2 separate regions of the Homo sapiens genome follow, and region 2 is linked to region 1. Evidence: fine-mapped QTL for protein levels in blood plasma. Region 1 holds a variant in brackets. A gene starts in the other region. All regions are shown on their reverse strands.

Region 1 (5,000 bases):
CGCCCAGGCTGGAGTGCAGTGGTGCCATCTCCGCTCACTGCAAGCTCCGCCTCCTGGGTTCATGCCATTCTCCTGCCTCAGCCTCCCAAGTAGCTGGGACTACAGGCACCCACCATGCCCGGCTAATTTTTTGTATTTTTAGTAGAGACGGGGTTTCACCATGTTAGCCGGGATGGTCTCGATCTCCTGACCTCGTGATCCATCCACCTCAGCCTCCCAAAGTGCTGGGATTACAGGCGTGAGCCACTGTGCCTGGCCCGGCCTCAGTGCTTTTTCTATGGGCCCCTGTCACAGGCTAGAACCCAGGCAGACCAGGGAGGCCAGGCCCCAGCTGCTGCCATGCTGCCGGGAGCGGGGAGGGGAGGGCAGAGAGCTGGAGCATCAGAGCTCGCATAGGGGAATTAGCAGTATATGTGTCATTCTGACATGGGACATCAGGAATGTGGAATGGCCCCAGGAAGCGTGTGCCTGCCAGGGACGCTGGCAGGGAGGGGGTGCAGGGTGGGCAGCTGAGCCCCTCCCGGCCCCCAGGACCCACCAGGCAGCAGCTGCCCCTGTCACTCTGAGTGACCTGGGTCTGGTCTCCAATGTGCACATGGCCTTCTGGGAACCTGGGGTTCAGCCTAGCTCCTTCCTGGAGCCCCATTCTTGTGACCCTGGACCTCAGTTTCTCCATCGTTAAATGGGAAGAACAATCTTTATTTGGCAAGGCTGTGGCAGGGGAGAGCGTGGTTGGTTGAGCCTGGCACCGCAGCAGGCTCATGGTGGGAAATTGGAAAATGGGGCTGTTGTTCCACATCCCCTTAGAATACTGTCCTCACACACGATTCTAATCTCCCAGTCCTCTCCTTCCCAAGGTCAGGTCCAAGGGATCTGCTTCTCCTGTGATTGGCTGGACAGGCGGACACAGTCAGTGGACAGTGACCCCCCAATGGGAGGCTATACATTGGAGAGAGGGGCTCAGTCAGAATGTCCAGTGGCTTGGGAACCTTGGGAGGCCAAGGTGGGAGGATTGCTTGAGGCCAGGAGTTTGAGACCAGCTTGGACAACATAGCAAAACCCCATCTCTACAAAAACTAAAAAATAATTATCCATGTATGGTGGCATGCACCTGTAGTCCTACACACTTGGCAGGCTGAGGTGGGAGGGTTGCTTGAGCCCAGGAGTTTGAGGCAGCAGAGCCATGACCATGGCATTACTGCACTCCAATCCGGGCAACAGATCAAGACCTTGTCTCAAAAAAAAAAAAAGAAAAAGAAAGAAAGAGAGAGAAAGAAAGAAAGAAGAGAGAGAAAAAGAGAGGGAGAGAGAGAGAGGAAGGAAGGAAGGGAGGGAGGGAGGGAGGGAGGAGAGAGAGAAAGAGAGAAAGGAAGACAGAGAGGGGAGGGAAGGAGCAAAAGGAAAGGAAAGGAAGGAAGGAAAAGAAAGAGAAAAAGAAAGAAAGAGAGAGAGGGAGGGAAGAAGGAAGGAAGGAAGGAAGAAAAGAAGGAAGGAAGGAAGGAAAAAGAAAGTTGGTCAGTCTGGGGGCTTTCGGGAGTTAGTGGGGGTCTTTGAGAGCAGGAGGGAGCATAAACCCAGTCTGCTTTTGGAAGCTACCTCTGGAGCCACCTGCAGGGGAGGGAGCAAAAGGGAGGCTGGATACCTAGGGCTCGGAGGGGGGCACTCAGGGACACAAAAGCCCCAGCACCGGCTCCCAGGGAAGCACCGCAGCCCAACCCATGGGCCTCCGCATCACACCCTCCCCCAAGCCTATGTGCATCTGCACGTGCTTCCTCCTAAACCCTACGCCCCAGGAGGCAGGCGGGACAGGTGCACCCTACTCATGGGCAAAGACAGTATTATCAGAGAGGTGGCAGTGCTGGCCTCAGGAGCCACGCTGGACCGTGGAAGCGCATGAGGGAATAGGGTTGTTTTTTTTTTTTTTTTGCGACAGAGCCTTGCTCCCTAGCCCAGGCTGGCACGATCTCGGTTCACTGCAACCCTCGCCTCCCAGATTCAAATGATTCTCCTGCCTCAGCCTCCTGAGTAGCTGGGACTACAGGTGTGCCCCACTATGCCCGGCTAATTTTTGTATTTTTTAGTAGAGACAGGGTTTTGCCATGTTGTCCAGAATGGTCTCGAATTCTTGACCTCAGGTGATCCGCCCGCCTCGGCCTCCCAAAGTGCTGGGATTACAGGGGTGAGCTGCCGCACCTGGCCTGGAACAGGGTTCTTGAGGGAAGTAGTCAGGTGACTCCCTGGTTCCTGCCCTGGAGGAGGTACAGTTCTGGGGGTAAGATGAGTTCTGTGTGGGATACCGTCAGCTGGAGAGGCTATGCTGAGAGCTGGGAGGAGCCCAGAGTGAGGATAAACAATCATGAGCTGACGCTCAGTCTTCCAAGGAGGCCCCAGCCTCCAATCCCTCTGTCTGACCCCTCTGACCGCATATGCATTTTCAGCCACCACTCCCTGGGGGCAGACGGGGGCAATCCCGATGGCCTCCATGAAGGCTGTCCTGGTTGGGCAGTCCTGTCCCAGCCTGAGGCCTGTAAGGAAAAGGACAGGAGAGTGCCAAGTGCTGGGTCAGACACCATGCCTGGGCCCCCCATGGCCCACTCAAGGCTCAGGGGCTGGGGAGTAGCAGTACGTGCCAGGATGGGGCCAGGGAAGGAGGTTCCAGGCTCAGAGCCTTGAGAAGCTGCTCACTCTGAGGAGCTCTGAGTACAGGGCTGTGACGGCTCCTCAGTGGAAGACCAGGCAGGCAGGGACAGCTGCAGCCCAGGCGGGCGGCAACCAGCTGCTGCCCGGGAGACTGGCCAGGGCGGGGCGGGCATGGCCTCCACAAGCCCCCAGCCTGAGCCGGCAGAGCGTGGGAGCGGGCCGCGGCCTAAGGCTGGCTCTCAGATTTTCATGCTGTGTTAACGGTCAGCTTGGTTAATGCTGAGCAGATGGGGGAGGGGGGCTGCCAGCTCCCTTGGGGACAGCTGCAGGGCACACATGCACACACACACATGTGCAGAGGGTACAGGAGTCCCACCGTGTATAGTGCAATGCGGACTCAGCCCATTAATACTCATTCACACTGTCGCAGACACAAGATGGGGCTGGTGGGACAGGCGGACCCAGATAGGCACACACTGGCTCCTGGGGCAGTGGAGGTGGCGGAGCCCATGGCCTGGTCCAGTGCCCTCAGTCCGTGTCCTGTAGGCAGAACTCTGCTGGAGGGATCCCTCCACCTCACCCCACTCCATGTTGCTCAGGGAAGACCCAGGCACACAGAGCTTTATTTCAAAAAAATAATTTATAAAACGCCATTTGCTCCTGTTTTCGGCAGGCTTCCAGCTTCTCTGGGCTCAGGGGCCAATGCTCCCGTCAAGACG[C/G]TGGGGCAGCAGCAGCAGGGGGAGGTGTGGGGAAAGGGGGTTCAGAGGCCCAGAACCTCCTGCTGGTATTGGGAGGCAGGAGGTTTAGCATAGCAGCTCTCCAGCCAGGCTCAGCCAAACCCGGGATGGGGACTAAGCGCCAAGGTCCAAGAAGCCGAGCAGAACCCTGACATTTGGGCCATCAGGACACAGGCACGGCAGCTCCAAGGGCAAGGGCACGGCCCTTGGACACGGCACAGCAACTCTGGGCCAGGGGCCCCATGCTATCAAGGTCGAGCACTGTGTCAGGCTGTGGCTGAGCCCCAAGGCCCAAGGCCACCAGCCTATGTGCCTGCACAGCCTTGAGCCTTGCTCATGTCTGCACCCCAGACCCGAAGGGGAAGGAGCTGGATCCCAATGGCAGGGGGTCGTGGCTGAAGACAGAATCGCTGGAGGAGCAGGTGCTGCTGGCGTCCCCACCAGAGGGGGAATAGGGTCCGAAGGTCAGGCGGAGGTCGAGGTACTGTGGGGAACGGAGCTGGTCAGCCTCTGCAGCGCCCGGGATGGGACGGGGCGCATGTCCACGCGGTCAGGCCAGATGAGGCCTGGAGGGGAGCAGGCAGAGGGAGGTGGTGGGTGGGAGGGGCTGTACCTCCTCAGAGACGGCCAGCAGGACCTTGTCCAGCGCCTCCACCAGCTGCTTGAAGGTAGGCCTCTGGGAGGGCGCTGCGTGCCAGCACTCACGCATCAGCCCGTACCTGCGAGAGGTGGGGCGGAGGGTCACAGGGAGCCTCAGGCCTTCAGGAGGAAGGGGAGGACCGGGGGTTCTCTGGGTGGGGAGGAGTTTGGTGGGGAGTTTGATGAGGGATAGGAGGGTCATCAGTAGAAGCCAGGCCAGGACACTCCACTAGGCTGAGGAGGAGGAAGAGGAGGAGGAGGAAGAGGAGCAGGAGGAGGAGGAGGAAGAGAAGGAGGAGGAAGAGAAGGAGGAGGAAGAGGAGCAGGAGGAGAAGGAGGAAGAGGAGGAGGAGGAAGAGGAGGAGGAGGAAGAGGAGGAGGAGGAAGAGAAGGAGGAGGAAGAGGAGCAGGAGGAGAAGGAGGAAGAGGAGGAGGAGGAAGAGGAGGAGGAGGAAGAGGAGGAGGAAGAGGAGGAGGAGGAAGAGGAGGAGGAGGAAGAGGAAGAGGAGGAGGAGGACGAGGAGTTGTTGTTAGTGTTGTCCTTCTGGCCGGGACACACCCTGAGGCCATGGTCAGGGCAGAGGAGGAGGAGGACTGGAAAGTGGGGTCGAGGGCAGGGTGAGGCCTCACAGCTCTGGGGGGCAGTGTGGGGGTCGGTCCATCCGATGTCCCTCCCGCAGCAGCGAGAACAGCTCCTCCACCGGGATGCCAGGATACGGGGAGCCCCCGAGGGTGAAGATCTCCCATAGCAGGATCCCAAAAGACCACCTGGAGGTAGGGCCAGGGCTCAGTGTGGCTCAGCGCCCTCCCGACGACCGGGGCTAGGACGGGGGACCCCACAGACATGACCCACCACAGCTGTTGGGGAATGGGCTCCTCCTGGAGTCTGGGCCCACTCGGGTCCCAGACCAAATCTGAAGGAGCCCTCGAGCGCATGACTCCTGGGGCCACGTGACTTTGGGCAGTGCCTTGCCCTTTTTGTGG
Region 2 (5,521 bases), not on the chromosome of region 1:
TTCACTTTAGATCCTTTGGTACAATGTGATATTTTTATTTTTTATTTATTATTTTTTTGAGACAGAGTTTCACTCTCGCCCAGGCTGGAGTGCAGTGGCGTGATCTCGGCTCACTGTAACCTCTGCCTCCCGGGTTCAAGGGATTCTCCTGCCTCAGCCTCCCGAGTAACTGGGACTATAGGCACGTGCCACGACGCCCAGTTAATTTTTGTGTTTTCAGTAGAGAGGGTTTCACTATGTTGGCGAGGCTGGTCTCAAACTCCTGATCTTGTGATCCACCTGCCTTGGCCTCCCAAAGTGCTGGGATTACAGGCATGAGGCACTGTGCCCGGCCCAATCTGATATTTTTAAATGTACATGAGCATGAATTGTTTTAAAAATTAAAAGGACTGGCTGAGCGCAGTGGCTCACACCTGTAATCCCAGCACTTTGGGAGGCTGAGGCAGGTGGATCATGAGGTCAGGAGTTGGAGACCAGCCTGGCCAACATAGTGAAACCCCTCTCTACTAAAAACACAAAAATTAACTGGGCTGGTGGCATGTGCCTGTAGTACCAGTTACTCAAGAGGCTGAGGCAGGAGAATTGCTTGAACCTGGGAGGTGGAGATTGCAGTGAGCCAAGACTGCGCCATTGCACTCCAGCCTGGGTGACAGAGTGAGACTTTGTCTCAAAAAAAAAAAAAAAGAAAATTAAAAGGACTAAATGAGAGGAATATTTTTCTAACTTTTGTATGCATAATCTTGATAACTGTTAAATACCTATACAATTTCTACCCTTTAAGGTCTTATTTTGTCAAATCACAGTATACCCACACATTAATATGTTCTATATACAACTCTAGTCAAAGATATGCAAATGACCTTGAAATCATAATGCAATCTGTTTACCTCAAGGGCAGATGTATCTGAAACCATAGTACAATGCACATGTGTAATAATCCAGAAAAGTTCAAAAAGAAAAGAAGTGATAGCAGATATTTTTGTATGTACAAATTTAGACATGGAATTATTTTATGTTGCTGTATTTTTTTTCTACTTCTGTATATTTAGCTTTTGATTATTAATAATTAAATTACTTTTTGTAGCACATTATAAAATTATATTGATAAAGTTTTTTCATTTTTAAAATGTAACAGGTGTGCAGAATAATTTATTTTTCCTAAGTAAACTATTTGACTCAAAAAGTTAAATTCGATTCTAGATATTAGCCTCAATGTGAGGCTAAATCTCTTGCAAATTCCTGAGTCTTCTTTTCAAAGCATTCTTAATGAAGACAGTTAGTGTTAATTATGTTGTCATTTAAAAAATCCATGTCCACAACAGCTGTATTTTACTCCTTAACCTTGGGAAAATTATTTAATCTCATTAAGCTTCAGTTTCCTCATCTTTTAAATGGGAAGAATAATAAAACTAGTTCAAAAGGCTGTTAAGAGGATCAACTGTAACGATGCATGTAAAATACTTAATGTAGTCTGTGGTACATAATAAGTACTCAGTAATTATTACCTATTATTTTGCTTGTATTTTCACTATTGTTTTACTAATTTTAACATTTCTCAACATTATCTCTAGCTTTTGAAATATATTGCTTGAAAATTGCTTTAGTAGAGCACATTCTTCCCAGTTCTTATGGGAAGAAATGTGTTTAGCTCCCATAACAATTAATCTTCTCTTTTTTGCTATGTAACACAAATAAAATCAAAAGTGAAGTATATTTAAATTTCTGTATTTAATATGCATGAGTTAGCTAACATTTATTTGGCTTACTTATTTACTTACTTTATTTACTTATTAGCTAAGTTAGCTATACTTAACAACAAATACATATTTGAAATGGTTGTGCCTTAAGATAATTCTGAAATGATTGCATGTTGTCAGAAAAGGGTTCCAACAATTAAATTTATGAAGCACTGTTTTCCCACAGAATGAAAGTAAGCTCATATATTCACACTGTAGTGTATAATGGTAGATTTAAAAATAGCCTCAAAGTGCAACTTTTGAAAAAACTAATTGGATTAATACATTAAAAATACCTTAGATAAATAAAACATACACTAACTTAAATGCAAAATTTGAGGATAGATCTTTTGAATTAGCTTAAAATCAGTTGCCTTGATTTCAGTGAAGAGAATTACTGAGGCAGAAGGTAAATTCTTAAATTCTTAGTGTTTTCTGAAGCTATAAGAAGAAGCTAGCTGTACAGTACCTTGATCAAGTTGTGTCCCACAGTGTAGACAGCTGCTAAATTTCCCTTCTCTCCAGGGGCATGCATACCTGTCCCATACCCATGCCAAGCCACTAGATATGGGTTGTGAATTGTAATCCAATATTTGACACGGTCCCCAAACATCTGGAAACAGTATGTGGCATAGTCATTGAAGATATCTATTATGGTATCATTTTTCCACCCCCCATATTTTTCTTGTAGTGCCAAAGGCAAATCCCAGTGGTATAAAGTAACTATAGGTTCAATGTTTCTAAGCACTAGAGCGTCCAGAAGAGTACTGTAGTACTGCAGACCTTTTGCGTTGGCAACTGTTACTATTCCATCGGGGAAAAGCCTTGGCCAGGAAATTGAAAATTGATAAAAAGAAACTCCTATAAAATCCAGGGCTGATAAGTCTTTTTCCAGAAAAATATAACTGTCACTGGAACCATTCGTGCTGCTGACATTTTTAAGGTGTGTGTGGATGAAATGATCCCATATAGAAGGTCCTTTTCCATCCTTCTTCCAACTCCCTTCCACTTGCAATGCTCCAGTCCCAATACCCCAGAAAAAGTTTTTAGGGAAAGTGTCATAGAGAAACAGCTGACTTTCATTTACCGGAGTAAAATTAGGATTTTTAGACCATATAGCTCTTCCATCTCCAGAGAATCCAGTAACAGCTCGTAGCAGAATAAGTGCTGACAGGATGACAGATCTTTGCAATCCCCCGTTGGACATTGTATTCCTATAGCGTGTGGTTATTTCATCAGTGCTGAAGAAAATCCATTCATTCCCTGGAGATCCTGCCGCACAGCCTGGCTTCATTTGCCACCAACTGCTGGACTGTCTTATCAAAGCTTCAGTAAAAGCTTGTGATTGTAAAGCTCTGTCAATGATTAGCTTGAACTGGGAGACTGAGGATGGGTCATAGAGAGCAACGTAATTTGAGGGAGGTGGCCCTATTGCAGTCACCAACGCGTCTCCTTCTCTCTCATTATGGAAAAAATTAGATGAAAATGCATCGGTGACAAGAGTTTGAATGTGTAACTAACACATATGTAAACACTGGATTAAAATCACATTATTTTCCGTGTAGCCTTTCATATTGACCCAAATCTTTTCTGAATGTTTTGAACATTATTGAATAAGGTATATAGCTTTTCTATTTTTAGAGTTTTTGTGTGGTAATTTTATAATCTCATATATCAAGAAAAATAACATATACAAGTATATAGCATTCCTACATACCAATAGTAAAGAATTAGAAAACACAATAAGAAATTACACTTCTCCACAAAATTATAACGCATCTAAGAACAATCTTAATAAATGTTACCTATTTTAGGAAAATTGCAAAAATGTATTGGTAGATTTGAGAGAAGACTTGAATGAGAAAATATAGCACTTTGTGGATGGAAAAATGAAATACTTTTCAATTTAATACATTTAACTTAACTAAAATCCTCTAATCTCTAATTTTATTTTTTATTTTATTTATTTAACTTAACTAAAATTCTCTAATCTCTAATTTTTTAATTAATTAATTAATTTTTAATAAGAGTCTTGCTTTGTAGCCTAGGCTGGAGTGCAGTGGTGTCATCACAGCTCACCGCAGCCTCAACTTCCCAGGCTTAAGCAATCCTCCCTCCTCAGCCTCCAAGTAGCTGGGACAACAGGCACATGCCACCATGCCCAGCTGATTTTTGATTTTTTGGTAGAGGTGGGGTCTAGCTATGTCCCCCAGGCTGGTCCTGAACTCCTGGGCTCAAACAGCCCTTCTGCCTCGGCCTCCTAAAGTGCTTGGGATTATAGGTGTGAGCCACCATGCCTGGCCTAATCCCAAATTTTAGTTCAAGAAAATTATTACGAAAGGCCAGGCACAGTGATTCATGGCTATAATCCCACCACTTTGGGAGGCCAAGGCAGGCAGATCACTTGGGGTCAGGAGTTTGAGACCAGCCTAGCCAACATGTTGAAACCCCGTCTCTATTAAAAATACAATTAGCTGGGCACGGTGGTGGGCACCTGTAATCCCAGCTACCTGGGAGGCTGAGGCAGGAGAATCTCTTGAACCTGGGACGTGGAGGTTGTAGTGAGCTGAGATCGCACCACCGCACTCCAGCCTGGGCAACAGAGCAAGACTCGGTCTCAAAATAAAAAAAAAAAAAAAAAGAGAAAATTATTATGAAAGTTCCCTTGAAGAATAGGCAATATTTATTTTTAAAAAGGAAAGAAAAACCTGAAAAAGAAAATAGCAAAGGCATAGACTACCTTCAGCATGATTCTGGAATAAAGATAAACATACAGAAAGAAATACATGCACATACAGAAAGAAATATTGTACCAAATCGATAGCCTCCAAATAACCTGTAAAAAATTTAATGTTTTACAGCCTGGGGAACATAATAAGGCCCCATCTCTACAAAAAAAATTAAAAACTAACCGGGTGTGGTTGTGCATGCCTGTAGTCCCAGCACTTTAGAAGGCCAAGGTGGGAGGATTGCTTTGAGCCCAAGAGGTCAAGACTGTAGTGAGCCATGATTGCACCACTGCACTCCAGCCTGGGTGACAGAATGAGACTCTGTCTCAAAAAATAATAAATAAATAAATAAATAAATGTTTTAAATATTTGAAGTATCACATATGAATGAGAAGCAGAGTGGTTAATAGTTTGGTCTCTGTGCCAGATGAGGTGGCTCACACCTATAATCCCAGCTACTTAGGAGGCTAAGTGGGGAGGACTGCTTGAGGCCAGGAGTTTTGAGACCAGCCTGGGCAATATAGTGAGACTATCCTCACCTCTAAAAAAAGATGATTGAGGCCCGGCACAGTGGTTCGCACCTGTAATCCCAGCACTTTGGGAGTCCGAGGCGGCTGGATCACCTGAGATCAGGAGTTCGAGACCAGCCTGACCAACATGGTGAAACCCCATCTCTACTAAAAATACAAAATTAGCTGGGCATGGTGGCACATGCCTGTAATCCCAGTTACTCGGGAGGCTGAGGCAGAAGAATTGCCTGATCCCGGGAGGTGGAGGTTGCAGTGAGCCGAGATCGCGCCATTGCACTCCAGCCTAGGCAACAAGAGCAAAACTCTGTCTAAAAAAAAAAAAAAAAAAAAAAAAAAAAAAAAAAAAAAAAGAGAGATTGAGCCTCTAGAGGCAGACTGCCTGAGTTTAAATATAGCTGTGTAACTTGCCCTCAGTTTCCTCTTTAAGAAAAGGCATAATAATAATATGCACTTCATGGATTATTGTGAGAATTAAACGAGTTAATACACTGAACCAAATGGTTTTCTCTGGAATATAGAAACGAAT

Direction of the effects. Alleles are on the strand shown, and positions count from the first base shown. The strength of an association depends on the size of the effect and on how common the allele is.
For the plasma level of the protein whose gene starts at base 3,050 in region 2, allele G in region 1 goes with a lower level than allele C (moderate association).

Evidence for each region. PIP is the chance, under the fine-mapping model, that this variant and not a neighbour inherited with it causes the effect. Protein levels are from antibody-based Olink assays in UK Biobank. Linkage for the fine-mapping came from a reference panel and not from the study's own genotypes, which makes the PIPs less certain.
Region 2: KLB starts here. The variant in region 1 is fine-mapped to the plasma level of the KLB protein (UK Biobank, PIP above 0.99).

The regions. Positions count from the first base shown.
Region 1 is chr5:177,096,388-177,101,387 of GRCh38, reverse strand. FGFR4 (fibroblast growth factor receptor 4) reads right to left here. Exons shown (of 18, transcript NM_213647.3): 16 at 4,647-4,784; 17 at 3,991-4,096; 18 at 3,244-3,861. The coding sequence ends at 3,712. Among named protein-coding and RNA genes, the nearest start is that of FGFR4, 12 kb to the right of the region's middle. The variant C/G (reference allele first, on the strand shown) is at 3,360.
Region 2 is chr4:39,404,459-39,409,979 of GRCh38, reverse strand. It overlaps KLB (klotho beta), which reads right to left and starts at 3,050. Exons shown (of 5, transcript NM_175737.4): 1 at 2,206-3,050. The coding sequence starts at 3,030.